Regions from separate parts of the Homo sapiens genome. Here all the other regions are reported to be linked to region 1. The links are microRNA targets in miRTarBase. Many come from high-throughput screens and were not tested one by one. Region 1 holds a microRNA gene; each other region holds the end of a gene's coding sequence. Distances are from middle to middle.

Region 1 (4,096 bases):
TATACCCTTTTGTATGAAACCACTAGAAACTGTGTGTTTGAAATACAGAACTGTTTCTGAGCAGGGGCTGCTGGAGTCCACCAGGATTACAGTCATGACAAGCACTGTGTTTCCTGGGACGGTTTCCATCTCCGTCTGGGTGTTCCATAAGCCAGACTTAGAAACCTTTCCTGATTTATGGTTAGGAACACTGATCACTGTAGCCATGTCTCGTGGACTGGAGGCTAGGGAGACTCAACCCACAGAAACAAGGAGGCTGCTTCAGGAAACTCTAAGGAGAGGAAGGGTGGCATATAAAGAAGCCTTTGTGGGCTGGGAATAAGTTAGTTTTTCGTGAGTAAATTCATTCATCACCTAAAATGCTCCCAGAACTATGCAAGGTATTTAAGCAGCAACATCACAGCTCCAAAAATAAGTATAAAACAGAAGACATGGTCACTATCCTTCAGAAATCAATCATCTGTTTGAGGAGCTAACACAAAACAGTTAAAAAGTGATGCAAAACAGCACAGCAAATCAAGGACAGATGTGCCTGAACTAGACTGACCCTGTGCAAGGGAGAATCTTGAAAGTGTCTTTGATGTGGTGATTCAGGCCTGGTGGGATGAGAGCATGTGCAAATGTCCAAGCATCAGCGATGGACTGTAGTGATTCAGGACAGGTGTCTGAGAGGCCAGGACATGAGGCTGCATGGAGGAATGATGAGAGGTGGGAGCGATGGTATTCTGAGGTGGAAAGAGTTGTGTCCTGCAGGCGTCAAGGGATGTGGCCTCTGGTCCCAGTATCCCTTTGTGGGCACACAACTTGATCCTCACTGTGCTTACACCTGCTCCTCTGTAAAGCTAGGATGGACAAACTGATCTGGATGCTTTTTTTTCCAAACTCCACCTGCAGGACTGGGGCAAGTCTGTGATGATAGAGAAAAATGAGGACAAGATTGCAAGTTTTTCATAAATCTAAATTTATTAAATGTAAAGGACTGCCTTCATCTTTCAAGTTTAGCCTTTGTGCTTTTTCTTGGTATTAAAATGTCTTTCATTTTATGAAATAGTGACAGTGGATGGATTTTTTTAAAAAAAATGGCCTGACTTGGCAGCATAAAAATTTGGTTAGCATGATATCCTGTGTGAGGTCATCTCCCCCAGTTAAAAAAAAAAAACAAAAACAGTGCCAGTCAGCGAAGGACCAGGAATAAAAACTCTGGATGAGAGGCTCTTAATCAGGTTGTAGCAGTTTGTATGAGTTTGTATAAAGCTTGACAAGTCTACGTACCCAGGCTCCAGCCTATTCTCTGTGAGGCTGCCAGGCATTTTTGGACCTATTTGCTCTCCTGTTCAAAAACCATTAGGTGTAAATATCTTCACACTTCCCATCATAATCCAGCTCCAATCTCTCTCCACCTCTTGCAACTCTCAGTATCCTCCACTCCTGCCTCACCAGTCTTTTCTCCATTCCCCATAACTCTTCACATCTCCCTGCCTTTGCTTACGCTGGTTCCTCTGCCCCGGTGCTGCCCTTCCTCCAGCTGCCTGGCAAACTCCTATTCCTCTAGACACCCAGTGTCTAATGTTACCTTTCATTCTGAATTTTTCCTTAATCTGCCCCACTGCTTCCAATGAAATAACTGCTACCTCTTCTATGTTTTTGGCACTTTGCACAGATTTCTATTCCATGTATTTATGGAGTATTTACTTCTGCCATTCTGTCCTCCAAGACTGTGACCAACAGCACCTAGGTTGGTTTCTGTCCCTCAGATATTTACTGAATTGAAATACATTGTGTTTGATATTAATAAAAGAGAAACCATGTTTGATGTAAGCCTGGTCAAATAAACAAAGACAAGTTTACTTTTATGGTCTGAATCGCTCAGATTCAAGAAAGCCCCCTCCAACCCTCAAATTCCTTCTGCACTGTCTCACTTGTGCCTCAAATCCATCCCTAACGTCTCATTCCTTCACTTAAAGGTTACAATGTAAGAAGTTTATCAGATTCTTTCCCAAGCTCAGGCTTGATGGAAGAAAGGAGGGCGGGGACGCAGGCCTATGGGTGGGGTAGGGAAGGAGCCACTAGGCTGCAGAGAGGGCAAAAAGAGGCTCTGAGGATAGAGCCTGTCTCATTCTCAGTTGTCACAGGTTGGCTGAGGTCACAGGGAGTTCAGAGCACACTGATTTAAGAAGCCACCTGCCTGTGTCCTTCAAGATGTTTAGGATGGGAAATGATGGGATCAGTAGGGCATAGGTAATGCTCTCACAGCCCATAGAGAGATGTCTTCCTACTTAAGAAAAGGCAGTGACGTTCAGGCGCCTGGTCTGAGGTGCCTGGAAATACTCACCGGATGGCAGAGGCGAGGGCTAGCCGACTGGGTGGAGGGGGCCTGGGGATCTGCGGTAGGGAGTGGGACCCATCCCGGGGGCTGCGAGTGGAGGCGGTGCCTGCTTAGAGTGTTGGCTGGACTGGAAGAGCAGGCAGGGCGTGGGTCGGCTGTTGGGGGAGGAGTAAGGCGAGGGGAGCGGGGAGGTCAAGGCCTGAGCTCCCTGTGCCAAGGCCGAGGGCAGGCGCACCCTGGGACGAGGCCTCTGTCTTACAGGGACCTGCTCCCTTCGTGCCCGGGCTGGGGGACCCTGCAGCCCACCTCTGACTTGGCCCCGAGCCATTGGGGGCACTTTTCCAGACTTGCTTGGTGCCAGGACTGGATACTTTGGGAGATCCAGGCAGGCTCCGCGGAGGTTCACGCAGGCCGAGGGGGCAGACCCTGAGTGTGGGCGTGTGGGTGTGTGCATGAGCGTGGACCCGGAGCGACACACACTCACACACACACACTCACACGCCCGCACCCACGCAGGTCCCTCGGCCGCGCCGCCCCAGACCCTCACCCCAGAGCCGGGTCCTCCCTGACCACTGCTTCTCACTAACGCAGAGGGCAGGATTCGTGGGTCCCGGACGAGGCGCCAAGGTATGGTGTTCCCACCACCCCCGGGCAGCCGCCCCCGCGCTCGCCCGCCCCCCGGGGAAGGGGATGGGGACCGAGTGCCCGGGGCTCTTACCGCTCAGGCGGCCGAGTACGCGCGGGAGTGCCCAGCGGGTCCCGCCCCGCCACGTCTGCAGGGCCGGCGGGGACGCGGCCGGAGGGCGGGCGGCTGGAGAGGGGGCCCCGCCCCGCCTGCGCCCCGCCCCACGAGGAGCGCCGCGGGGACGCCCGGCCACCCCCACGCTGCGAGGGCCGGGCCCGCGCTGGGCGAGTCTCCTGGAAACTTGGCTTGTCCCACCCCTGTGCCAGCGCGGAAAGCCAGAGCGCGCCGCCTCTCCAGCCCAGGGCGGGTGGGTCTCGGGGTTCGCCAGATCCCTTTCCTTTCCTTAAAAGGGCTTGGAAAACCCCCCGCCGTGTCACTGGGAAGAGGTCGCTCAAATTCAGCTAAAGTTTGATCTCCTGATTCTGCGTTAAGCAGCACTCCCTTGCCCTGTCGGTGGGAGTGTGATAGATTTAAAACAAACAAACCCCAAACAAACAACGAAAACCCACTTTCCAGAAGGCCAGTTTGGAGCTGTGGGTTAAAACTCCGATGTATTAGCTTTGGCCTAGGAATTCCACATTTGTGAATTTGTCCTAAGTAGGCAGTCAAATGGGCAAATATGTATGTACAAGGATGTTTGTTGTAGTTGTTTCTGCGGGGGGAAGCCGGAGACAATCTCAATGTCCCCCAGTAAGATTGGTGAAGTAAGCTACAGTAACTTCAGACATCGAATATGTTGTAGCCCTTAAAAATGAGGATTCGTTGACATGGAGGGAAGGCCACATATGAAGGCCTTCCTCAAATATGGCTTAATATGAACTCAGATGCGGAGGAAGCGCAGTGTTTATAGTATTAACTAGTTTTGTAAACAATTTTGTATTTTCTATAAAAGTCGGAGGAAATACAATTTAAAAATAGTGATTCTTTCTGAGCGATGTGTTTAAGGCAGATTTTCTCCTCTCTCACTCCATCCCTTCTTCTTTTTGAAGAATTATAAATTCAAAGTTAAAGAAAAAATAGCCCTAGTCTCTCCCTTTCAATATCACTACCATTTTTTATAGTGTGTGGATCCTACCATAGTTTTT
Region 2 (4,096 bases), 94 Mb from region 1:
TCCTTGTTAAAAAGGAACACAAAAGGATGTTAAGTGCAAAGCCTTTACCACTACAAAATTAGACTTGAAAAAGATAAAGAACTCAAGAATTTGTAATATGAAAAATATAAGATTTTCAGAAAAATCATCAAGTATACCAATATTTTAAGTATTTTTGAGTTCCTTGGGTATCAATAGCACACATAGAAACATGAGGGGGAAAAACACATGCAATGACAAATAACAGTGCTATGATCAGTCAATAACTTAAATACTTTTCTTGATCTTGCTGAACTTTTGCCACACTCTGCCTGAGTAATTGTTTTAAAGACTAACTGAGCTCCAGTAAATAATGTTTAGAAGGTAAAATGGTACAATTAACGTACAGTTGTTAAAGATTATATTGGGAATTGTGAGATTCTTTTTCCTCCTCTTATTGAAGAAGCAAGATAGCTTCTATAATACAGAGAATCTGATGGCAAATTACAATCCAATTAACAAATAAAACAATGAGAAATTAAAATATTTAAATATTCTACTATAGTTCTTAATTTGCAATGTTTGATAAAGGCAGTGCATTTAATATCTTTAAAAAATAAAATACACATATTTCCTTAATATTTGCCAAGAAAAGATGATACATATATCATTGACGCTATTATATCTGTGAAGTAATTCTGATGTGATATTTAAATTTGATTTAAGATGATTTCACCAAACTATGTTCACACGTTAAAAATTAGAATTCTACATGTGGATGAAATATTTTCTAAAAATTGTCTTTTGACATACCTTTGAAACATTAAGACACTGTTTCCACAGGAAATTTTTTTTGACTTTGACTGCTCTAAAACTAACCATGTTAACAAGGAGTAAATGACATGATTTTTTTTTCTGAAATAATTTATTGACGAAATACTGTCTAATACGATGGATATTATTCTTTGATGTATATAAAATTATGTAAGATTGGATATTAGAATGACCAGATTAAAGAGAAAACCTATCCTAAAATTCCTTGATATATTAATCTAGTAAATGCTTAATTAGAAACCTTCATTATTTGTTGGTTGCACTTTCCATTTTATAGTCCCCCTCATTGGAAGAAAACATTTTAACCAACTTACAAGAATCATATCCTTACTCTGTTGTAACTTCTAATTTACTTTGGATGCAACAGATAAGTTGATTAATGACCTAATAATGTAGCATTTTATCCTTAAACAATTCTATTTGTCCCGCAAATTAGGAAGAAGTTCTGGTTTTGGTTTTGTAGATTGATGATAACTAAAATGTAAGTTAGTATAACTAGTTCCTAGGATATATGAAAATAACTAATACACAAATATATAATAAAAAAGTTGGTTCAAAGGAGATTATATACAATGATATAAAAGGTTAAATAATTAAAGAAAATGTCTTTGAGGTAAATGACAATATAATTACTATACATGAAGTGAGTATAATCTTATTTTCAATGCATGCAGTAAGGAAGATGGATGTGGATATTCACCCATGATTGCAAAATGATGCGTGAAACATTTTAATTAAAGCAGAGTGACTCAACAAGAAAATCATTTTCTTGCTAAAAAAAAGAGTTGGAACAAACAGACTTTTTTCCAGTTAAATTATGTATAAACATTTCCTTACTAAAATAGTCTATCATTCAAAATATTAATGTAGTAATGCCAAAGTTTAAGAAAATGTTACTGCTGCACTTAGTGAATTTATGTGCTTTTTGTATTACATATGATCTGTTAGCTTCATATATGTTTAAAGAGACTTCAAAAGGCTGGAACATTACATACATTATTTTGATATATGAACTGATTGGAATATGATATATTAATATCTAATTTGATAACAGTCAAATGAGTGATACCAATATATCACTCTAAATGTACATATCAGGACCTAAGTGTGTGTGTGTGTGTGTGTGTGTGTGTGTGTATATATATGTATTTTAAAGTTAAATCTAGGGAAAAATTTCCACTTAAGTTACATAAAATTTGATGAAGAACATTTGTCAAATGTTAAGTTTTAGTCTATTCTTTAATAACACAGTGCAGCTCAAACTGTCATTGAATATAAGATCAGTTAAAAATTAAGGAAAGTATTTCAAAACAGGTTTCTAATTTGAACTGGGCAAACATTTTGATATAATGTTGAAGCTTTGATATGATGTTTTGATATCATAGTTTAGAGGGCGAGGGGAGCTGTGACAATTCTGTTTTTTGCTTGAAAGATTATCTTATATTCTCTGATTTTTTTCCTCTCTCGAATGTGTTCTAACAAGGCATACACAACAGTAGAAAAAATATATAAAAGAAAGGAAAGTGCGTCTTACTAAATTTAATAATTAATATTGTTGACATAAAAGTAAAAGGCAAGCTTAACTTTTGAAGGCTGACTCATGAAGAATTTTTTCATTAATCAAACACTGACTACATTTAAGCTATAAAATTTTCACATGGAATACTGAAACAATAATGTACCATGATTCTATCTCTAAATTTATTTTAAATTTAGAGCTTTCATATTTTATAGTTATTCTTTACCAGTTCAGATGTTTCTATATCTCTATATATTCATATAGAATTATAGATTTTATATTCATGTGTAATTAAGTCACAAAACTATGTAAAATAAAATTCTGTGTGAGTGATATGACTGATGACTTCTTAAAATAGTAATCTTCAATTACATATTTTACACCACAAAATGTACAGACACCCAGTTTTTTTCTAACAACAAATACAGGTGAATTTATCGATTCTTTATAAAAGCTTTAAGTGATTCTAAATTCAAAGTCATAGAAATAGAATCAGACTTATGCAGATTGTTAGATAGTTTGATAGTACATAGTCAGTGCTCTGTCTGATAACATCAATAGCTACATCTTTGGCATTGAAAATTCAATATGAGTTTTTGACAAAATTTTGTAGCTTAGAGCATCATTTTCTTTTAAACAAGGAAAAACACGGTTGAGTAAGATATGGAAATTGGGAGAAAACTATTAATGATTTTTTCTTAGTAAGTTTGTCTTTGGGACCCTGAATTACCTTTTATTTTATTGTATGATGTGGACTGTATGCATCCATTTAAAAACCAACTGAGTTGTACCACATTTTAGGAAAATTATATAATATAATATATATATTTTATATTTATTTAGAAGCTTTGAAATAGTACAGTAAACACTTTGCAACACGGTGTATAAACTACAGAATGTCTTTGATATTTTGTGGGTCTTCAGAATACAACATTTTTTATAACCCACAGGTGAAAAGAACATAATCACAATTTCTCTTGTAAAGTTGGAATAGCTTGCGGAACACTTGATCACACAAAAATAATATAAAACAGTCAAGTTTAAAACAGTGATATTGCATTTATAATGCACAAATTTCCTTTATCTTTATGACTGGCTTCTCGTGGTGAATATAAACATCTAAAGGGCTCAGTGACATTTGGAGAGAGAAAGATAGATAGTGCTGTAAACAGGCACACACTGATCGGGGAGGCAAAATCTGTTGCCTCTAAAGTTTCTACAGTTCTGCACATTTCAACTCATTTCTCAGGCCTGCTGAGAGCAATTAGGTCCTATAATTGGCCATGATGACTCCATCCGAAATCTAATACTCAGTTACACATGACTAACTGGATGGCCAAGATAATGAAGTTGAAAAGTTGATGCTTTTGTTGGTCGACTTTGTGCAAATCATGCTGCTTCAGGTAAGTCCTGTAGAATTGACTAGCATATCCTTTTCCGTGCTGTGAAAAAGAAAGAAAAATACTCTAAGAAAAAGAGGTTGACTTTTGGAGTTTAGAATTACACATTATTGTAAAAGAAAGAATACAGTTAGAAACTAGTTGTACCCTCATACCAAACACATGTAGTGTCAAACTTTTTCACTGCTAGTAGTCACAGCCATTCTGTTGTTTGGTTTTCTGAGAATGATAATTTTGATATTCTTATAAATTAGTTTTGCATGGGAAATGTACATTTTATATACCAAAGATGAAATTTGTGAAGATTAACTTTTTAAAGTTATCTACATAAAACAATCCCTACACTTCACTATTTATGCACAGAGTATAGAAAAAAATGTGTGGC
Region 3 (4,096 bases), not on the chromosome of region 1:
TGTTGGAGTCAGCCTAAACATGGGTTCAAGTCCCTGCTCTGCCATATAGTGGCCAGGTGACCTTGGGTGAGTAAACTCACTTCCCTGAGCCTCCATGTCTTGTCTCTAAAATGGAGGGGTAGGAATCCCCCCTTTAAAGAGCTGCTGTATGGAGTAAGGAAGAGCCAAAGGGTGTAGGACACATAACACAGGAATAGGCACTAGATGAAAGGTGATCGTCACCATTTTCATTATCCAGGGGCTTCAGTATTATGGCGTGAGATGCCCTTTATTGAGGGTCAATTATGTCACCAGGGAGTATGCTGGTTCCTTTTAAATATTTTGTCCCTAGACCTCACAACCAATCCTGCAGGTAGGTCCTGTTATGTTTATTGCAGGGTTGTTAGGGGATTGTGCAAGGTCACCCGACTGTGGGTTGTGGAGCTGGGGGCGGGACTATGGGTTCTGGAGCTGGTGCTCCTCCTAATACAGAGCCCACCTCCCCAGCTTCTCTGAGAGGCCACACAAGGCCCCTGGTCAGTCGGGCAGGCAAGTCCAACCTCTCCTTCCTTCCCTCCCTCGTGCCAACATTTCCAGGGCACTAGCTCCATGACAAGCCCCTTACTGGGCAATGGACACAAGATGGCACAGAAATACTCCCTGCCCTTGAGGAGCCAGCACCGAACAGAGCAAAGGGCCGAGCCGCATCCAGACTGCTCCGCACGCGTGTGTATCAGTTAGCAAAAACTAACTGTGTATGTAACAAGTGATTTCAACAGACTGTCTTCAAAAAAAAAAACCATTTATCATCTCTCCCAGTTCTAGGGGTTGGTTGGGCAGTGTCTTCTAAGCTTAGCCATGTGGCTACACTTACCTGACAGGTCAGCTAGACTGGAAGGTTCAAGACAGCCTCACTCACAGCCTGGGAGTTGCTACTGACTGTTCATGGCACGCGCTGGTTCTCCTCTGTGTGCCCTCAAATCATCCGGTAGGTGAGACAGCTTCCCTTGTATAGCAGAGTTCCAGAAGAGCAAAAGCAAAAACTGCAAGGCCTCATGAGACCTGGGATCCAGAACTCACACGCCATCACTTCTGCCCATGCTATTGGCCAAAGCAAGTCATATTCTATCGCTTGGCCAGTACCCGTGACACACATTTGTGATGCATCGCGTAAGGCTCAGAGGTCAGCTCAGAATGAGGATGAGGGGGTCAGTCTGTGCCCTATCCAAGTGTGATCCTAACTGGCCAATTAATTTTTAACTCAGATTAAAGTATGCTGAATTGTGAGGTCATTAGAATGGGTTGTATCCTCTGACCAATGGAGAAACTGAGGCACAGAGGGTCAGCCAGTGTGCAAACAGAATGAGTACATCATAGAGTCAGCCTTCATATGAAGAAACTGAGTTCCAGAAACAGGAATTGTCTTGTCCAAGGTCAGGCAGCAAGCCTGTGACAGAGTCAGGAGTGACCCAGGTCCCTACCAGCCAGCCTGCTCCTCCTCCCTCTCTACCCCATGGAGGCGGCTGGGGCTGGGAATGGGCTGGGCTGGGGCAATGGGACGGTCATCCCCAGCAGGGCTGTGTCTCCTCTGCCCCCATCTCTGCGATGTTTGTAAAGTAAGCCCTTTCAACACGCTTGGCACTACATAAGGCACTTAATCATTACCTCATCTGATCCAAACAGGACTGTCCCCACTTTACAGATGATAAAGTAGGCCCCAGAGAGGGCACTAACTTGCCCAGGGTCTCGCAGCTGCTGGGCCCATCTGCCTGACACCAAAGCCTGAGCCTCCCATGCTGCCCCAGAAAGAGCTGAACCTGATCCAGGGCCCCCAGTGGAGTGAGAGGCAGCTCTGTGGCCCTCAGGGATCTCGAGTTGATATACCCTACCTGAGGAACTGCTTCAGAGGCCTGGATGGGGACAGCAATGGCCAGGGTCCCTTGGAACCAACTCTGAAAGTGGAAGGACCCTGAGTGATGTCCTGGTCCACACTCCCACCATTTTACGAATGGAAAAACCAGGACCAGATCAGAACCCAGGCTTCTCCAGGGCCCTCCCACTGCACTGGAGGCTGGGGGCAGGTGAGCAGGCCCCGTCAGGCTGGTGAGACACACACAGGGCTGCTCTGTGGCATTCAGAGAGCACGTTTATTTACAAAGCGCTTTACAAACATCAGCTTATGCCTCCCCACAGCCCCCTGCGAGGTAGGTCAGTAGTCATATCTACAGTTTACAGATGGGGAAATTGAGGCACGGAATGGGGGTGTGGCCTGCCCCATTTTAAAGAGACCTTCCCACCCACCCAACCAAAAATAACAAAAGAAACAAAAAAGCACTGGTCCTACCTCTTCCTCTGAACTCCAGAGGGTATGACCAGCCCTGCTCTAACACTGCCCCTCCCCACAACGGGCAGCCTGACCAGGAGCCACAGGGGCCTCAACCCCAGGGGCTGTTGTTCAGCCTTGCAGATTGTCACTGGCCCAAGCTGAGCAGGACAGGCCAGTGAGGCCTGAAGATTAAAGGAAGAGGGGGGCGAGGTGACTTCATTCTGCAACAGTGGGTCAGGCAGGGAAGGAGCCCCCCATGGGGCACAGCAGTAATAGGCAGATCCTGGTTCAGGGAAGCTCAGAGCACATATCAGGGAAGCAAGTGGGGAGGGATAGTGAGCAAAATATCTCAGGGGCTGCAGGGGGCAGTGGGGAGGAGGGCGCTGCAGTTCCCCTGGGGAGGACAGTCAGTGTGCCCCACTGGCTATTCAGAATTGAGACCTGCTTCCCCAGGACCTTCAGGGGCTGGGCCAGATGGAATCCTAAATGCCAAGTCCCAGTACATCCTCTACCCACATGCAGAGGGGGCAGGCTGAGTGGGAACCTTGGCCTGGGATGCTCTCTGCAGGGCCTCACTCATCCCTGCCAAAAGCCAGGATGGTGCCAAGGGGCTTGGCCTGAGTCCCCCAGAGCCAGCCGTCCTGAGCCTTTGTCACTCTGCCAGGCAGCACCAGGCCTCTCAGCACAGGCCTGCAGGACCCTATGGAGGTGGGGCTGGGCTGCAGACTTGCTAAGCTCCTCCTTGGCCCACCACCCGCCCATGGGACAAGCGAAAGGCCCTGCCCACAGTGGAAGGGGGAGCAAGATAGCCCAGCATCCACTCCAGTGCTTGCCCCATGGGAGTGTGTTTGGGCAGAGCAGGAGGCACTGATCTTCCTCGCCAGTCCAGGATGGTGGGTCTGGCCCTGAGTGTGCAGTGGGTGCCCCAGGCCAGGGCCCCGCTATCTTGACTCCAGCCCCTCCAAGTACTCCAGGGCCACATCGTAGCAAAAGTGGTACTGATCCTGGGGAGAGGAAGAGAGGGAGGGAATCATGAGCCTGACCCCAACTCCAGTATTGTGGGGGGAGGGGAACGGGGAGTGAGAGGGCAAGCACGAGCCCGAGCCCAGGCCCGCCCTCGGGGAGAAGGGAGAAATGGGGGTAATGTTTTAGGACCACAGGGCTAGAACCAAGGCCCAGTGGTGGGGCCCAGATATGGGAGAGTGGGTGCTAAGGAACCTGGCCTGGCATGGACCAGGAAGGTGGAAGTGGCTGGGCACGGGACACAGCCCCTCACCATGGTCTCCACCATGTTGGGTTTGTAGTTCCGGAGGGTTTTGGCAGCAAAGAAAACGTCCACCAAGTTGTGGCAGCGGATCATCTCCAGGACCGTGGCGCAGGCGCAGAAGGTGCCGCTGCGTCCTCCCCCGTTTCTGAATGAGAGATGCAAAAGCTGAGGGGCGGGGCCTTGGAACCTGAAGGTAAGAAAAGGGCCAGGGAACCACGAGGGAGGGGCAGAGAGCCTAGAGGAGAGGGACGGAGCTAGGGAATCTAGAAGGGTGGGGCAGAGAGCCCAGAGGTGAGGGGCGGAGTTAGAGAACACAGAAAGGAGGGGCCCGAGAGCCTAGAGGAGAGGGGCGGAGCTAGGGAACCCAGAAGGAAGAGGCCAAAGAGCCCAGAGATGAGGGGCAGAGCTAGGAAACCCAGAAAGGAGGGGCCAAAGAGTCCAGAGGTGAGGGGCGGGGCTAGGAAACTAAGGAGGGCCAAAGAGCCCAAGGTGAGGGGCAGAACTAGGGAACTCAGAAGGGCGGG
Region 4 (4,000 bases), not on the chromosome of region 1:
TCAGATATCTTCCCCCAAAATGAATTTAATAATTCCTAATGGAAGAGCAAGCAGTAAGCATTGGCCAGACGCTTTATCAAAAGTATCTGGTTCTAACCCAGGTTCATGGTTTCTTCCCATAAAACTACAAGTCAGTGAATGTAAGTCTCAGTGGTAAAATCTTGGTCAGCTTTGGTGAGTGGGTCAGCCAGTGGGGAGTCGGGGGGAGAGAGAGTGTAAAGTATACTGTGGTAGAATGAAGACATGCAGTGGATGATAATGAAACCATTCTTCCTTACAGGGTAATTATGAAAAAGAAGGTCTCGGTGCTTCCAGCCACATAACCACAAAATCAATGGCTGCTCCTCCAAGCTGTGGTCTGAGCCCACTGCTGGTCCTGGTGGTAACCGCTCTGTCCACCCTATTATCTTTAACAGAAACATCATAGCTGCATTAAAAAAATACAATATGGACATGTAAAAAGACAAAAACCAAGTTATCTGTTTCCTGTTCTCTTGTATAGCTGAAATTCCAGTTTAGGAGCTCAGTTGAGAAACAGTTCCATTCAACTGGAACATTTTTTTTTTTTCCTTTTAAGAAAGCTTCTTGTGATCCTTTGGGGCTTCTGTGAAAAACCTGATGCAGTGCTCCATCCAAACTCAGAAGGCTTTGGGATATGCTGTATTTTAAAGGGACAGTTTGTAACTTGGGCTGTAAAGCAAACTGGGGCTGTGTTTTCGATGATGATGATGATCATGATGATGATCATCATGATCATGATGATGATCATCATGATCATGATGATGATTTTAACAGTTTTACTTCTGGCCTTTCCTAGCTAGAGAAGGAGTTAATATTTCTAAGGTAACTCCCATATCTCCTTTAATGACATTGATTTCTAATGATATAAATTTCAGCCTACATTGATGCCAAGCTTTTTTGCCACAAAGAAGATTCTTACCAAGAGTGGGCTTTGTGGAAACAGCTGGTACTGATGTTCACCTTTATATATGTACTAGCATTTTCCACGCTGATGTTTATGTACTGTAAACAGTTCTGCACTCTTGTACAAAAGAAAAAACACCTGTCACATCCAAATATAGTATCTGTCTTTTCGTCAAAATAGAGAGTGGGGAATGAGTGTGCCGATTCAATACCTCAATCCCTGAACGACACTCTCCTAATCCTAAGCCTTACCTGAGTGAGAAGCCCTTTACCTAACAAAAGTCCAATATAGCTGAAATGTCGCTCTAATACTCTTTACACATATGAGGTTATATGTAGAAAAAAATTTTACTACTAAATGATTTCAACTATTGGCTTTCTATATTTTGAAAGTAATGATATTGTCTCATTTTTTTACTGATGGTTTAATACAAAATACACAGAGCTTCTTTCCCCTCATAAGTAGTGTTCGCTCTGATATGAACTTCACAAATACAGCTCATCAAAAGCAGACTCTGAGAAGCCTCGTGCTGTAGCAGAAAGTTCTGCATCATGTGACTGTGGACAGGCAGGAGGAAACAGAACAGACAAGCATTGTCTTTTGTCATTGCTCGAAGTGCAAGCGTGCATACCTGTGGAGGGAACTGGTGGCTGCTTGTAAATGTTCTGCAGCATCTCTTGACACACTTGTCATGACACAATCCAGTACCTTGGTTTTCAGGTTATCTGACAAAGGCAGCTTTGATTGGGACATGGAGGCATGGGCAGGTTCTCCTTTCTTTGGAAACACATCCATGCTGGGATGCACAGTTCTTTTCCTAAGGATTGTGTTTACTCCTGACTGCAACGTCTTGGCCACTGTTTGGAGCAGTTTGGTCTGAAGGTCATTAAGGATCTGCTTGCATCTTGTTTCATGTCCTCCGTGACAGACTGCAGACCATGTTAGAAGAGAAGGAAGGTTTGTGGATCAAGAGGGTTGACATTAGGTTTGGTGAGATGAGTTGCTTGGCACAGATCAGCAGAACAGGACCCTGGTGATAAGGCATCTGGCTTTGCTAACCACTTATCATCTTCCATTATTCTCTTTCTTAACTAAGTAGACCCGAAAGTGCACTTTTGAAGTCTGGTTTAGATGGCGAGATTCCGAATCTACAATGATCGAGTACTGGTGGCCACTTTTCTCCAACATTAAGTAAAGAGGAGGAGATTCCACCTTCAGAAAGTGCTGGGAAGCATTGGCTTTCTTCCCACATTGGTAGAAGAGATGGAGGAGGAAACCAGGGTGCACATTTCTACAGATCCCCTTTGCCTGCTGGTGTTTGCCTTGTAAGATAAGTCACTGGGGGGAAGGGGAAATCTATGAAATCCAAGATAAAGGCATAGTCTTTCAGCTCTATTGGTGTTAAAAGTATATTTGTGTCCAAATGTTAATCAACACAAATGTACAGTACTCAGTACTGACTTTTTTCACTTCAAAATGTTTTCAAGGGAAATTCAGCAGACACCCAACTGTATTTAATTAGTGAAAAGATCTATAAAGACTCTTACTTTGAATAAACACATTAAGTAAGTGTGTCAAAATATTTGGAATGCCAGTTATCTATGAGCGCATATCTCTTACAGAGTGTATTTTGTTTTCATTAAGGTATCTCTGTGTATCTACACTGGACTAATTTCATAGGGATCTGATTCTATGTGATCCACTGTAGAAAGCTACTGATTACTTCTGCAGTAACAGCAGCTCTAATTAGCATCAGATGACCAAAGCGGAAATGGGAGTTTCAGCGCTAACAAGGGCAGCCTTCATTGAAGAATGCATGGGTAGGCAATATATAAATTACATTTTGAAAAGCCTCATCTGTCACCAACAAATATCTCATTTTTCTTCAGTGATAAAAGCATATTCAAGTTACCAGCTCCTCAATTTGAAAATCAGTTGCTGATTAAATAAATAGGGGGAAGCATCTTGTTCAGGGACAACACGTTAGAGAGATTCTTATCAAAGCAAGCCAAGCAAGGTTTCCGCCATTCAGTGTGATCTTAGTTTGACACGGTGACCCTAAAACACCATCATTTGCCCCAGAACTGGAGCACAATAAGTTAAATCATTTACCTGTCTCACTTCTTCTTGGCGTGCTTAAAAGCAAAAATGATTCGCTACTTCCTGTCCTTCAGTCCGGGCATTTGGGGTGCCACTGAAGACAGGGGTTATCTGCTGAGGTTTGGGTGTCTTGCAGGAAGTATCTCATTGCAGTTGATTTTGATGAAACCAAACAGTAACTAGGGTCCATGCAGACCGTGACTCCCTGATTACATCTAGCCATGCCCTACTTATTTCAGAGAGAAAGAGAGGGGGAATAAAGGCAGTATTGCCACACTGATTAGAAGCACATTCATTCCACTTTGATGTTGAATATTTTTGACCGATACATGCTTGAGTATCTTTTTAATAGAGCACATGAAGGAAGAAGCACACAATATAGAGAAGGAATTGAGAATGCCAATTACATATTTATTTTTCCATACCTGATTTTTTTCAAGTCTGTAATAAAAAAAGTATAAGTTGAGATTAACATAGGTTATTTTTCATGAAGTATAGCAAACGATCTAGAATGTGATAGGAGTGTGGTTTCCATTTCTTTTTTTTTTTTTTTAACAGACTTTTGTGCTGTAGTAAGAATGTCTTAGAAGTTGTGTCTTCGAGTTCCTCAAACACCGGACAGGGCTCCCCCAGAGCTGCCTCAGCCTTTGATTTGGTCCATATTCAGACACTTCCTGTCTTGCATACACTCTGAGGATGGGCCGCTTCTAGCTGCCGCCCGTCTCCCTCTTGCCTTCTTGTCTCTAAATCAGACACTCCCAAGCACTCCATCTGCTATACTAGGAGAGTGGGAGAGCCAAAGCATTTTGGAGTCCATGTAAAGTGCCTGGGAAAAGAGATGTAAGAGCAGTGGGAGTTTATATAATTAGCGAATTCTTTTCTCAGAATTCAGCGGAAATGTATTTCTGTTGTTATTATTTACAAAATTGTGGCCTCAGAGGAGCTGTCTTTTGGAAAATAAGTTTTCATTCATGC
Region 5 (4,080 bases), not on the chromosome of region 1:
CAAACCTAAAAAGAAAGGATGTTATAGTAAGAACTTAAAAAGTCTTCAACTGCTTTGTCAGATGCCATAGTAGTTGTTGGCAGAGCAGTTTGGACAACCATCCCATCAAAACCTGCATCTTCTGTGTTTAGTGTTTGTATCCATACGTGAACACCTGGATTTTTCATCCTGACTGTATAGTTCTTGAAAATAAGGCTACAGTGATGCCTAACATATTTGTCAGACTATTGTCTTAACAGTGTATTAACTTGGGATCTTGCTTTCTTCTGCCTTCTCCTTTAGAGTTGCTGGAATTGTGGCCGTAAAGCGAGTGAAACCTGCAGTGGCTGTAACACAGCCCGATACTGTGGCTCATTTTGCCAGCACAAAGACTGGGAGAAGCACCATCACATCTGTGGACAGACCCTGCAGGCCCAGCAGCAGGGAGACACACCTGCAGTCAGCTCCTCTGTCACGCCCAACAGCGGGGCTGGGAGCCCGATGGACACACCACCAGCAGCCACTCCGAGGTCAACCACCCCGGGAACCCCTTCCACCATAGAGACAACCCCTCGCTAGACGTGAACTCAGAACTGTCGGAGGAAAGACAACACAACCAACGCGAAACCAATTCCTCATCCTCAGATGCTCAAAGTTGTTTTTTTTGTTTGTTTGTTTATTAGATGAATTATCCTATTTCAGTACTTCAGCAAGAGAGAACCTAACTGTATCTTGAGGTGGTAGTAAAACACAGAGGGCCAGTAACGGGTCGTAATGACTTATTGTGGATAACAAAGATATCTTTTCTTTAGAGAACTGAAAAGAGAGCAGAGAATATAACATGAAATGATAGATTTGACCTCCTCCCTGTTATTTTCAAGTAGCTGGGATTTTAAACTAGATGACCTCATTAACCGATGCTTTACCAAACAGCAAACCAAGAGATTGCTAATTGCTGTTGAAAGCAAAAATGCTAATATTAAAAGTCACAATGTTCTTTATATACAATAATGGAAAAAAAAAAAAGAGGAAAACCCTCAAGGGCATGAGCATTGGATACAGCAGTAGACATTTTAACAAGAAGATGAATGGCGTCCGTGGGTTGCTAACTGAACTTTGAAGACCCGCTACAAAACGCGCAGATGTGCAGCAGATTGGAAGGAGACACAGATGTTCGGTTTTTTTCCTGTTTCTGAAAAGAAATAATAATATCCAGGTCAACAGAATGAAAAATGAAAGATGATTTGCAATGGGATGTATGAATACAGCAGCAAGAAAAAAAAATGCCATAATACAAAAGGCTCCATATATATATATATATATATATATATACACACACACACACGCACATATACACACACACACACACACACACACACACACACACACACACACACACACACACACAAGTAAGAGACTCAGCCTGCAGTTAATTAGCATTCTGGCAGTTTTGACATCAGCCAGCTGCCCTAAATAACCCTTCAACGTTTCTTCACTTTTGCAAGGTTCCACAGAGTAAGACATTGGGTCTATTCCAGCTCATTCATTTTATATTGAAAAAAATAATTTTAAAAATGGTGGCTTCAGCTCCAGCCCCTTTCCAAAATTTTTCAACCCCACCCTGTTTGGATTTTTAATTAAAAACTAGTAGTTCTCTTGGTGTTAAAACACTTCTGTCCTGTGAGGTTTCCCAATGGTGTTTTTCTTGTAAATGTGTTGGACAAATGTGAAGATGCATTGTAGTTTAACCATATGCCCACATTTAGTCTCTTTATTCCTAGTTGGTGAGAAACCTGTATCTTTCTATGCTGCTTTTATATCTGTATGTATTAGTGATATTTCTCTAGTAGTTAAAAAAAAAAAAAGGAAAAAAAGACTCTTTTTGGTTGTCCTCAAGAAAAGAAAAGAAGAAAAGCTATCTTTCGGAGCTGCTATTTCACTCTCTTATAGGATTTTTTTTTTTCCTGAAAACCAGCATGCTTCACGGAATGCTAACATATTGGTGTTTTTGTAAGAGGGATGTACATAAATGTATTTTGCACTGTCACAATGACTCCCTAGGCATGCTTTTTGTTTTTTTTTTTTTTTTTTTGAGCAAATTCTTTTTAAATATGCTAGAGCCATTTCATCAAGTTTAGCTGTAGCATAGAGTAGTCGTGGAATTTTTCTTTTTTTTTTTTTTAAATCATTATTAGGGACTTTTTTAAAAAAATAAAATAACAAGATATCCTACTTTAAAAAAAAAGGACAGTGCATGCATATTGCTGTAAGGTCGTTTAAGTATTTCTAATTTTACAAAAGTAAAAATCATTAGAGCTCCAAATGCTGAGGTGTAGATTGACAGCTTTAACACTGCTGAATGCCAGGTTATACAGTATTCTTACAAAAAGGGAAGTCAGCCAAAGACTGATCTGATGGACCAAAATCGGAATTTTGAAAAGCACCAGTACTACTTTCCAAATGATCAGCAGGTTAAACATGTTCAGCAAGGTATAGTATGAATCCATTAACCCTTCGTTGTCCAGGGTCCAGACCAGAACTACTTGTTAGTTTTGAAAACAGTAGCCCAGGATGTGGTTGTGTGCTTTAGGAAAGTCAGCAGTGCTGCAGGCTGTGTAGACAACCAAAGTTTACAAGGCTGGGAAGACACTTCTCCAAATACATATACACCAGGCATTTCTTTAAAATCAAAAACAATCCATTAGCTTTGGGGCGGGGGGTGGGGGGAGGGTTAAATGTAGGCCTTGGAAACAGTTTTAAGTGGCTTTTAAGTATCTGCATAGAGGCAATCCTAAGGTTTGCTTTAAGTCTCTTAAATCTAACATTTTTAAAAGCATTTCTTCCCTGTATTTTCATATACAAGTTGGTTTTAATTTTGTTTGGGTGGTGTTATTTTTTTTAAATGACTTTTTAGTTTAGAAAGTTCTGATGAGCAAATAAATACATCTATCTACATGTTGGAAGTCCATCTGCCAGCACACCTGCTTAAAGTGAAATGAAAGCACATAACCAGGCTCTGAATGGGTTATATTTTATCATGGTGCTCCCAGAATCCTTTGACCTCACTCTGCTTTCTAGTCTGCTTGTGACACTGGACAGTCCTTTCTTACAGAGCTATTATATGTTCTAGGCTACGAAGGGTTAAATAATCCCAAAAATGAGGTATGTCATACCCACACGTCTTTATCTCTAGAAGCTGTGATGTATGTGAAACAGCACTGTTATTCTTAACACTAGTGTGTAAAATAAGGATTAGTACAGTACGTCTCATTACTTTTTAATTCAGGGCACCCTGAGTGAAAACAAATACAAAAAAAAATCCCTAACTCTGAGCTCTATCTCTGATTCCTCTTCCTCCTTCCCCTCTTCCTCCTCTTCCTCTCCTCCTGTTTTGCTACATTCTCCTCAGTGGCAAAAAGTTTCACTCTACCTCTGACAGCATGTATATTGCACCAGTAGCTAACAAAAACTGGTCTAGTCAAACCAAATGGGCACAAAAGAACCAGGATACCAAAAGTTAAGCTCATACAGCTGCAAACCATATCACTTCTTGGTAACAATGCAGACCTCATAAACCTAAAGAAGAGAAAGAAAAGAAAACTTTTGTTACTTTCCTTTTTTGCTTGTCACTTATATACAGGCTATGTGAGAATATAATTTGTAGGTATAACACATTAAGAAAAAGTTATCTTCATTGGATAGAATTGAATGGTGGTCGCTGATAGGAATAGGGCGTCCTCTAGCTCTTATCTCTGTCTCTTACTCTTTTCTCTTTCTCTTTTTCTCTGTCATGAGACTGTGTGTGACAGGGCCACCTGTCTTTTTTTTTTCTTAAATTTTTTTTTTTTTTATGTGTAGGTGCATGTCTTGGGGATTTAAAAATTTCAAGGCTGGTTTACTTATGCAAAGCATGCCTACGTCTGGAATACTTAGGGAAAGAAAGCGACTCCATGTTGTCCGAATTCCTCAAGGGACAGAAAAAAAATTGGAGACTGTTGAAATGCAGATTTGAAGTAATTTTTTTAAAATATTATTTTGGGTTCTGCGACATTGTGAAAAATTAAAGTTGTTGTGCAATACTTAATTCAGACATGTACCACA
Region 6 (4,093 bases), not on the chromosome of region 1:
CATTTGGGCAGACTATGTCAGAGGAAAGATCTGGGACTCAAGGGCTGCTGTTTAGATTCTTTTGTCCCACAGGGTGATCCTTTGATGTGGCGCTCTCCCCCTTCTCCTAGGAATGGGACTTCCTGAGAGCTGGACAGCAGTGATTGTTACTGCTCTTCAAGGTCTAGCCACCTAGTGGAGCTACCAGGCTCTGAGCTGGTACTGAGAGTGTGAAAAAAGCCCTGTGATGTGATACGTCTTTAGGTCTCTCAGCCACAGATACCAGCACCTGCCCTGGTGGAGGTAGCAGGGGAGTGAAGTGGGCTCTGTGAGTGTCCTTGCTTGTAATTTTGTTTAGTGTGCTGGTTTTCTCAAATGCTGGTTATGCTAGCAGTGAAGTTGTCATGTGGACAGATTCAGGACCTCTGGCTAGCCAGGATATTACAGGCAGTGGAATTAGCTGTTGTTTTCTTTTTCTCTAGGGGCAGGGTTGTTCTGTTATGAGTTGCTGTAATGGCTTGAGTGGGTTGGCCTCCAGCCAAGAGGTGGCGCTACAAAGAGGGCAATAGCTGCCACAGTATAGGGAGGATACAAGCTTGCCCTAAGGTTGCCTGGGTAAGTATTTCTGTTTCTTAAGTGATGGGTGGGGCCGTAGAGCTCCCACGAGATTATGTCTTTTGTCTTTGAATACCAGGGCAGGTAGAGAAAGACCATCAGGTGGGGCAGGGTTAGGCATGTCTGAGCTCAGATTCTCCTTGGGCAGAGCTTGTTATGGCTGCTGTGAGTGATGGGGTGTGCTTCTCAGGCTTATGGAGATACATTCCCAGGGGGATTATGTCTGCTTCTGCTGTGTCATACAGGACACCAGGAAGGTGAGGGAAAGCTGGCAGTGACAGGTCTCATCCAGCTTCCATGCAGCCAAGAAGGCCAGTCTCACTCCCACCATGCTCCCCCAACATCCAACAGAGCCGATTTTATATCCATGCCTGTAGTGCACAGGACTGAGATCTTGCCGCAGGTTACAAGCCTCCCTATTGAGAAAGCAAGCAGGGCTTTCAGGCCATGCCCCTCCCCTCCCCGTCATGGCTTCTGTGCTCCTACCTGCACTTCCCATTTCCCCTTCTCCCTGCCCTGGATGCTGTCCAGGAAAACTCACGATCAGTCAGCATTATTACAAAGTTCAGCTGGAAGTCTCCTCCCTGTGGCCCTTCCCCACTTCCACTGGCTGCCCTCCCCAGGGACCCCTGTGAGATTAAAGTCAGAAATGGCTTCCCTGGGTTTCCCTGGGGACCAGGAGTGCCTGCAGGGCTCTTCCCACTGCTTCTACTACTTTTATATTTCACTCGGCTCTCTAAATTTATTTCAGCTCTAGATACTGTTAAATCCTTCCCCTCTGATCTGGATTTTTGGGTTCCCCAGTGAGGATGTGTGTTTGGAGATGCTTTCCCCTCTTACATTTCGGGTGCTCACAGTTTTTTGGCTGTCTCACAGTGTTTGCAGTGACAAGCCACTTTGTTCAAAGGGTCTGTGAATTCTTTTGGTTTTCCTGGTATGTTCCTGTGGTGGTTCTTGGAGAAAAAGCTCACAATGTGAGTCTCCACATGCTGTTCTATCCATCCAAGTGGAAACTGCACATTAGTCCTGCTTCTTACCCACCATTTTCCCTCTGAAAAAAAAAAAATAGCCAGCTTCTTCCTTTTAGGTTGACATTCTTACTTTTGGAAATCAGTGCTAATGAAACCCAAGTGTTCCTTATGGAAATGTAGTTTGAAGAGTGAGGCTCCCTTGGACCTCCCAGCCTTGTCTAGCTTCTGTGTGACTGTGACGCATGGGTGAGCCCAGGTGAGACACACAGAGGAACAACACAGACTTCCCACAGAATCCAGAGAAAGAATACATCTGCTGTTTTAAGCCATTAAGTTTTGGGGTGATTGTTACACAACAATAGATAACTGGAACATATTCCCAAATTCCACGTTTGGAGGATTGCAAGCAATCGATCAATGTCAGCCTTTCCATGATCATCTGGTTTGCTTCAGGCCAGATCTGCTGCCTTTTGAATTAGAGATACCTTTTTCCAAGTTTTTGGTCATTGCTCGAGTTTTGTGTTCAGAATGCACATGTCTATTTTCTTACTTGCTGTAATGGAACAAATTATGCCCCCACCCTCAAATTCATATGCTGATGCCTTAACTCCCAATGTGACTGCATTTGGAGGTAGGGTCTTTAAAGAGGTGATCAAGCTTAAATGAAGCCCTAAGGGTGGGGACCTGATTCAAGAGGACTGGGATCCTTGTAAGAGAAAAGAGAGAGGCCAAGCATAGGCCTGGTGAGAAGGTGGCAGTCTGCAAGCCAAGGAGAGAAACCTCAGGAGAAACCAAACTAGCAACACTTTGATCTCAGACACTTCCAGCCTCTGGAGGTGGGAGGAAATAAATTTCTGTAGCTTAAGCCACCCAGCATGTGATATTTGTTATGGCAGCTATAGCAGACTAATACACTAGCATTTGAACACAAATCAAAGAGACCTCTGCAAGAGAGCTCTTGGGGATGCTGGTCAAGCTGTGATTTTTGACTTGAACTTTCTTTTCCAACATCTTTTACAGCAAATGAAGAAAGAAATTCACGTAATCTTTCTCGTCTGTACCCCTGAACAAAGCTGAATGTTTTTGAGGCACTCTTTCCATCTCAAACTTGGGTTTTAAAACAAATCAGCAATGATATTTATTCTATTGCCTTTTTATTAAGGAATCTATATGTTCATCATTTGAAACATACAGGAAAACATGAAGAAGAAAAGAAAATTACCCATAATGATGATCACTGGTGTGAAGTTCTCTCTCTCTCTCTCTGTGTATGTGTGTGTGTGTGTGTGTGTGTATTCAGAGACAGAGTCTCACTCTCACTCTGTCACCCAGGCTGTAGTACATGGTGCAGTCATGGCTCACTGCAGCCTCAAAATCCTGGGCTCAAGGGATCCTCCTGCTCCAGCCACCTGAGTGGCTGGGACTACAGGTGTGCACCACCATGTCTGGCTACTTACAAACAAATTTTTTTAGAGACAGGGTCTCCCTGTGTTGCCCAGTCTGGTCTTGAACTCCTGGGCTCAAGTGATCCTTCTGCTTCAGTCTCCAGAGTCACTGGGATTACAGGTATGAGTCACTGAACCTGGCTACGTTTTTAAAAAGTTTCTTTGCTTTATTAAATTCCTCTTCAAGACTTAACAGAACAATGGAAGCTCATCATAATCAGGGAAACAAGAAGAAAAGAGAATCACTCAGGCTCCTTTCTGGCGGGGGAGTGGAGAGGCTGGGAAACACAATGACAGTGAACCATGGGAAGCAGGGGGCATGGCCACTGGATCTGAAAGGGACCGGCTAACAGTCACTAAATGTCCAAGGCCTGGGCTTGAGCAATAGCCTCAGGTATCTCCATCACTTACACAGCACTCATTCGTTCAGTGAGATGTCATTTATTAAGCAGTTACAATGCTGCAGGTGCTGTGCAGGAGACTGGACATACAAAAGAAGAATTTGACCCAGACCTTCCCCCTCTGGGGTCTCATAATCTTGTAGGGGGAAGGGAATACAAATACAAATTAGCGAAGAATGATAGCAGTATCTTAGGACACTGTAACTGTGTGCTACGGGACCCAAGGACTGGAGAGCCATCCCTTCGTGAAGGTCAGGGAAGAGCTGGGTGGTGGAGAGAGCTGAGCCTGTGTGGACCCCTGATGCATGCTCTGATGCTGAGGGAGTACAGTAGAGATGGACACTGATAGTGACAGAAGAGTTTGGCCCCAAAGCAGAAGCGGCATCCTGCACCGACTCCCCTTAGAATGAATGAGTACGCACAAGAAAACAACCACAGGCATCGCCGCCCTTCAGTGGATCTCTTTGCTGGAGAATTGACAGAGTGCGTGTCGCGCCTGAGTGAGCCGGTAAATTCTCTCCTTAAGGATTCTTCTCTTGGTAGCGGTCTCACTCTGCTCTTGAAGCAGCCAGGAATAGCGATTTTTTTCCTGTAGTATCTGCATCATGGCTTTCTGCAAGGAGTCACCATTCTCTCGGAGCATAAAATACTGAATTATAAATGGGATCTGGTTGGCGAGACG
Region 7 (4,000 bases), not on the chromosome of region 1:
GAGTAGTTGGGGGAACTGGGGGAGACTTGGCAGGGTTCCGCCACCATGAGAAAAATGGTGGGGTGGTGCTGTTTCCTCCTGGGGGAGGCTGTGGTAGTGGCAGTATGCTACTAGATCGAGAGAGGCCACAGCCTGCCCCCTGCACAGTGGGATTTGTGGACTGTCTCTATGGAACAGTGCCCAAATTAAAGGAACTGCACGTGCACCCTCCTGGCATGCAATACCCAGACTTACAGCAGGATGCCAGGCTCAAAGAAACCCTTCTCTTCTCGGCTGGAAAGGGCTTCACAGACCACCAAACCCAAAAAAGTGATTACCTCGAGTTAAGGGCCAAACTTCAAACCAAGCCGGATTACCTCGAAGTCCTGGAGAAGACAACATACAGGTTCTAACAGAGAGAAGAAAATATATTAGTGCTTTTTTTTTTTCAAAAGAAAAGGAAAATAAAAGAAATATATCCCTTGCTCCCTTTACACTTGTCCCAGTAACTCCATCCTCACGATCTTTCCTACCCTGAACAAAACTAAAACCGCATGATAACTAGAGAATACAGATGTATGCTCTCCCCTCTCAGATGCGATTTGGAGGAAGGGCCATACTCAGATCATTAATCAATGAAAGTGCCTTCGCAGACTTTTGCCAGCAAATGTTATCATTATTTTTTTATACTGAAACTTGAGACTTTGACTGTGCCATGTATAAGATATACTGGGGATCATTGTATGGATCCTAATTAAGTAAAATTCAATGTGTCTTTTTATTTTCAGTAACTATTTTTTTTATAGTTGTAGTTTTGATTTAAAGGGGGGGAAACAAGTTGACATTTGTCATTTGTGGCTTTCTTTCTTATCATCATGGCACAGATTCTGTACATGTATTAACAATGCAGTTTGCTGCATGCCTGGAAACTGCAAGATGGGGAGGGAGGGGGCGGGTCTTGCTCGAATGTTCTCACTCACTATCTTGTCTCTCATACACATATCCATCTGCAGACCATGGTCCCTAAACCTGCAGTTTCTTCCTGCTGGTGCAGGTACACACACACACACACACACACACACACACACACACACACACTCCATACCATTTCCATTCAACTCAATCTGCTTAGTTCGGGTTTGATCCATTTTTCTCCTCTCCATAGTTCTACCACCCTTCACTGCTAGTGTACAGCTCACAGCATCTCTCCTACCACCCTGGGAAAAGTCACATTCTAGGCTGGATTCTACTGAAGTAGAGGCCTGGTGGTTTAACAGCCGAAGACACACGCCTAGGGATGAGCACCCTCTTTGTGACACTTCATCCTGATGCCAAGATTTTTTGGAGAACATCTGCACTTTCTTATATATATATATAATATTAAAAAAAGCAACTGGGTATATATCACTAACAGCTTTGTAGGAAGCACTTTTAATGTTTTCTCTCTCACACACAAAGATTCAAAAGAAATGTGCATATATTTATTCTGTAATTTCAGTGATTATAAATTGTAAAGGTAATGTTTAATCATTGTATAGTGATTATGCCTCTGGTATAGCTTTCCTAATAAAAAGTTTTTGAAAAACATAATACATTATATATAGAGGATACAAAGCTTGAACCTTAAACTCCAGCTATGCCATGCCTTTCGTGCTTCCATTTTAGAAATGATTTCTTTTACTTGTTACACAGAAAGTAATTTATTAACGGGTTTGATGCACTGTGATGTTGATAAATCTTATATCCCACCATCTCTAGTCCAAACCAGGATACAATTGAGACTTAAAATGTGACTTACGGTTTACTTTTTTTTCCTTGAATTATGAATTTCAGTCTTAGTAACCAGTGATGCACTGTTTCCCAGGCAAGATGCAAGGGGGAGAAAATAAAGTAACTAGATCGCTAAGAAGTACAGGATTAATTAGGAGAAGATAATCTAGGATCCATACATCTTAAGATAATAAATGAGATAAAGAAATTGGAAAGTAAAATTGCTATTGTTTTTAAAATATGTAGTCCAATTACATGCACACCCTCACACACCCACACGCTTCCACACACACCCACACAACCCAATAAATATCAAAGGCCGTGGAGCCAATTTAGATGGCCAGAATCCTGTGAAAGCTGTCACTTATATTTGGTTACCATTTTCCAACCACTTACAGCAACTGGCCCCAATAACGCTTGAACTAAGTCAGAGGATGCTGAATGAGTTTTTCGTCATATGACATTAAAATTATGTTGAAAAATTAACCTGACAACAAACCAAGTTTAGATCCATTTATATGTGAGCGAAACCAAAGAATATTGGATTTTTATGGTGCCGGTATCAAATTGGTGGAGGAAACTTAAGAAAACAGACCTATGAGGCAGGCACTTATCTAAGTAGGCCATTAGAGGGCAGCAGAGTTCCAGAGATCCACAGACCCAGGACCCGCAGAACTGTGCAGCGAGGTCAGTGCTCTCTGCTAGGGTTTCCTCAAAGTGCCCATAGCAGGAATTATCATTAGGTGTTGAATGTAATTCATCACAAGTCACTGAAGCCTTACATCACAATTTTTTCCACAAAAAGAGAATGAGTCTAGCAGCTTCTGAAGGTGTGTGACTACAATAGCACGAAGGCATTGTAGTAACAAAATGAAAAGCCCCATGAATGTCTACAAGAATATATTTATATTCCTCTTAATTAATTATATAGAAATATCAGCATAGGTATGCATAAAAATAAAAAAGACAAGTATATACATATAAAATTGCAGTTTTGGGGCTCTTGACATGTATCTATAACTTTTATGCTCAATTATTTGAATATAATTTGGAATTATTTTAAAAGGAAAAAGCCCATGAACATCATTCACTTTATCTGTCTGTGTAATATTGAAATGAAGCTCTTATGCAGAAGAGTCAGGCCAATTATTAGATAAGTGTCATTCTTCTTTTTTGTTTTATCTTCTTCTTTTCTTTCTTGTTTTCTTTTTTTACTTTCCCACAAATCACCTTTCTTCTGGTTATCCCACCTCCTTTATTCTTTCTAATCATCTGTCTCTTTTTTTTAAGGTACATAAAACCAATATTACACTTTAAGTGTTTTAAAACCCAAATTACAGAGTCTCTCTGAACTAGCAATTTATCATACTTCCATTCCTCCTAATCAAATGGTTTGGGGAATAATAGAAAGCATATGCATAGTAAAAACTTAAAAGTGCAAAGCTAGATGCTTCAGATAGTAGTCCTCATTTCCTTAATGACCACGCACATATTCATAACACAGCATTTTATACAAATCAGGCTAAAGTACAATCTCAAAAGACCCTGGTGCTTTCAACGTTTGAAAAATGAGTGCCCATAAACAATATCAAATCACAATATAACTTGATAATTATAATGTTTATATTTCACTTATTAAATACAGAAAGACTGTTTGGTCTTAAATATAGGTGGTACTTTCACCCTTGAATGAGAAATAAATTTATTTATTTAGCAAAAATAAATTTATATGAGAATGGAATTTTGTATTTAAGGGAATAGTTTTTTGCTTTTATGGAATTTTCCACCCCCTGGTTAGGACATTTATTTTTGCTGTGCATTCAAATTACCTAAGTTAGCTTCAGTTTATAATACTAGATCTGATTTCATTAAACACGATGGATATTCATGTAGGTACTATGATTATAATATGTTTTATGTTTTTGCTGTAGTAAAATATTTATTTTTAAGAAAAAGTTAGATTACTAATTCACTTCATTGTGAGGACTAACTTGACTAAAGCAGACCCAGTTCTGGCAGTTACTTGCTATTATTCATTGCTATTTTTATTACCAAGTATAGTAATAATATTTAGAAATAATAAAAATATTGTAATATCTCAAACTATAAGATGATTAGTGAGAAATAATTGGAAATGAACTATTAGTTTAATTCAATAAGTTTTAACATCATGTTATACATCATATGTGGTATTATTTATGTAGATGTTTTTATATTTTTATTTAGAATGCTATATTATTTTATGTAATTG

The links. The annotated mature microRNA hsa-miR-574-5p reads UGAGUGUGUGUGUGUGAGUGUGU and lies in region 1 at 2,801-2,823, opposite strand. An mRNA with a match to its seed (bases 2 to 7 or 8) in the 3' UTR can be bound and repressed. Matches are read on the target gene's strand: a 7mer-m8 pairs with bases 2 to 8, a 7mer-A1 pairs with bases 2 to 7 and ends in A, and an 8mer does both.
Region 2: the mRNA of PCDH10 is a reported target of hsa-miR-574-5p. The part of its 3' UTR that is shown has no 7-base or 8-base seed match.
Region 3: miRTarBase lists PTPRU as a target of hsa-miR-574-5p. Seed matches in the 3' UTR shown: 8mer at 3,212-3,219 and 7mer-m8 at 3,146-3,152.
Region 4: miRTarBase lists GFRA1 as a target of hsa-miR-574-5p. The part of its 3' UTR that is shown has no 7-base or 8-base seed match.
Region 5: miRTarBase lists RUNX1T1 as a target of hsa-miR-574-5p. The part of its 3' UTR that is shown has no 7-base or 8-base seed match.
Region 6: miRTarBase lists MX2 as a target of hsa-miR-574-5p. The part of its 3' UTR that is shown has no 7-base or 8-base seed match.
Region 7: the mRNA of SLITRK3 is a reported target of hsa-miR-574-5p. Seed matches in the 3' UTR shown: 7mer-m8 at 1,073-1,079.

What each region holds. Positions count from the first base shown.
Region 1 is chr4:38,866,783-38,870,878 of GRCh38, reverse strand. It overlaps MIR574 (microRNA 574), which reads right to left and starts at 2,847; the gene lies at 2,752-2,847. FAM114A1 (family with sequence similarity 114 member A1) reads right to left here and starts at 3,073. Exons shown (of 15, transcript NM_138389.4): 1 at 3,045-3,073; 2 at 2,333-2,481. It also overlaps a transcript of TLR6 not described here. RefSeq lists an enhancer at 1,939-2,522 and silencers at 2,730-2,779, 2,830-3,309.
Region 2 is chr4:133,189,798-133,193,893 of GRCh38, reverse strand. It overlaps PCDH10 (protocadherin 10), which reads right to left. Exons shown (of 5, transcript NM_032961.3): 5 at 1-3,753. The coding sequence ends at 3,734. Among named protein-coding and RNA genes, the nearest start is that of PCDH10, 43 kb to the right of the region's middle.
Region 3 is chr1:29,324,812-29,328,907 of GRCh38, reverse strand. PTPRU (protein tyrosine phosphatase receptor type U) reads right to left here. Exons shown (of 30, transcript NM_133178.4): 29 at 3,582-3,717; 30 at 2,108-3,309. The coding sequence ends at 3,247. Among named protein-coding and RNA genes, the nearest start is that of LINC01756, 23 kb to the left of the region's middle. RefSeq lists a silencer at 2,917-3,211 and an enhancer at 3,141-3,946.
Region 4 is chr10:116,060,825-116,064,824 of GRCh38, reverse strand. It overlaps GFRA1 (GDNF family receptor alpha 1), which reads left to right. Exons shown (of 11, transcript NM_005264.8): 11 at 281-4,000. The coding sequence ends at 427. Among named protein-coding and RNA genes, the nearest start is that of SNORD158, 130 kb to the left of the region's middle.
Region 5 is chr8:91,956,720-91,960,799 of GRCh38, reverse strand. It overlaps RUNX1T1 (RUNX1 partner transcriptional co-repressor 1), which reads left to right. Exons shown (of 12, transcript NM_175634.3): 12 at 283-4,080. The coding sequence ends at 558. Among named protein-coding and RNA genes, the nearest start is that of RUNX1T1, 140 kb to the left of the region's middle.
Region 6 is chr21:41,408,003-41,412,095 of GRCh38, reverse strand. It overlaps MX2 (MX dynamin like GTPase 2), which reads right to left. Exons shown (of 14, transcript NM_002463.2): 14 at 2,703-4,093. The coding sequence ends at 3,863. Among named protein-coding and RNA genes, the nearest start is that of MX1, 16 kb to the left of the region's middle.
Region 7 is chr3:165,184,289-165,188,288 of GRCh38, reverse strand. It overlaps SLITRK3 (SLIT and NTRK like family member 3), which reads left to right. Exons shown (of 2, transcript NM_001318810.2): 2 at 1-1,569. The coding sequence ends at 392. Among named protein-coding and RNA genes, the nearest start is that of SLITRK3, 10 kb to the left of the region's middle.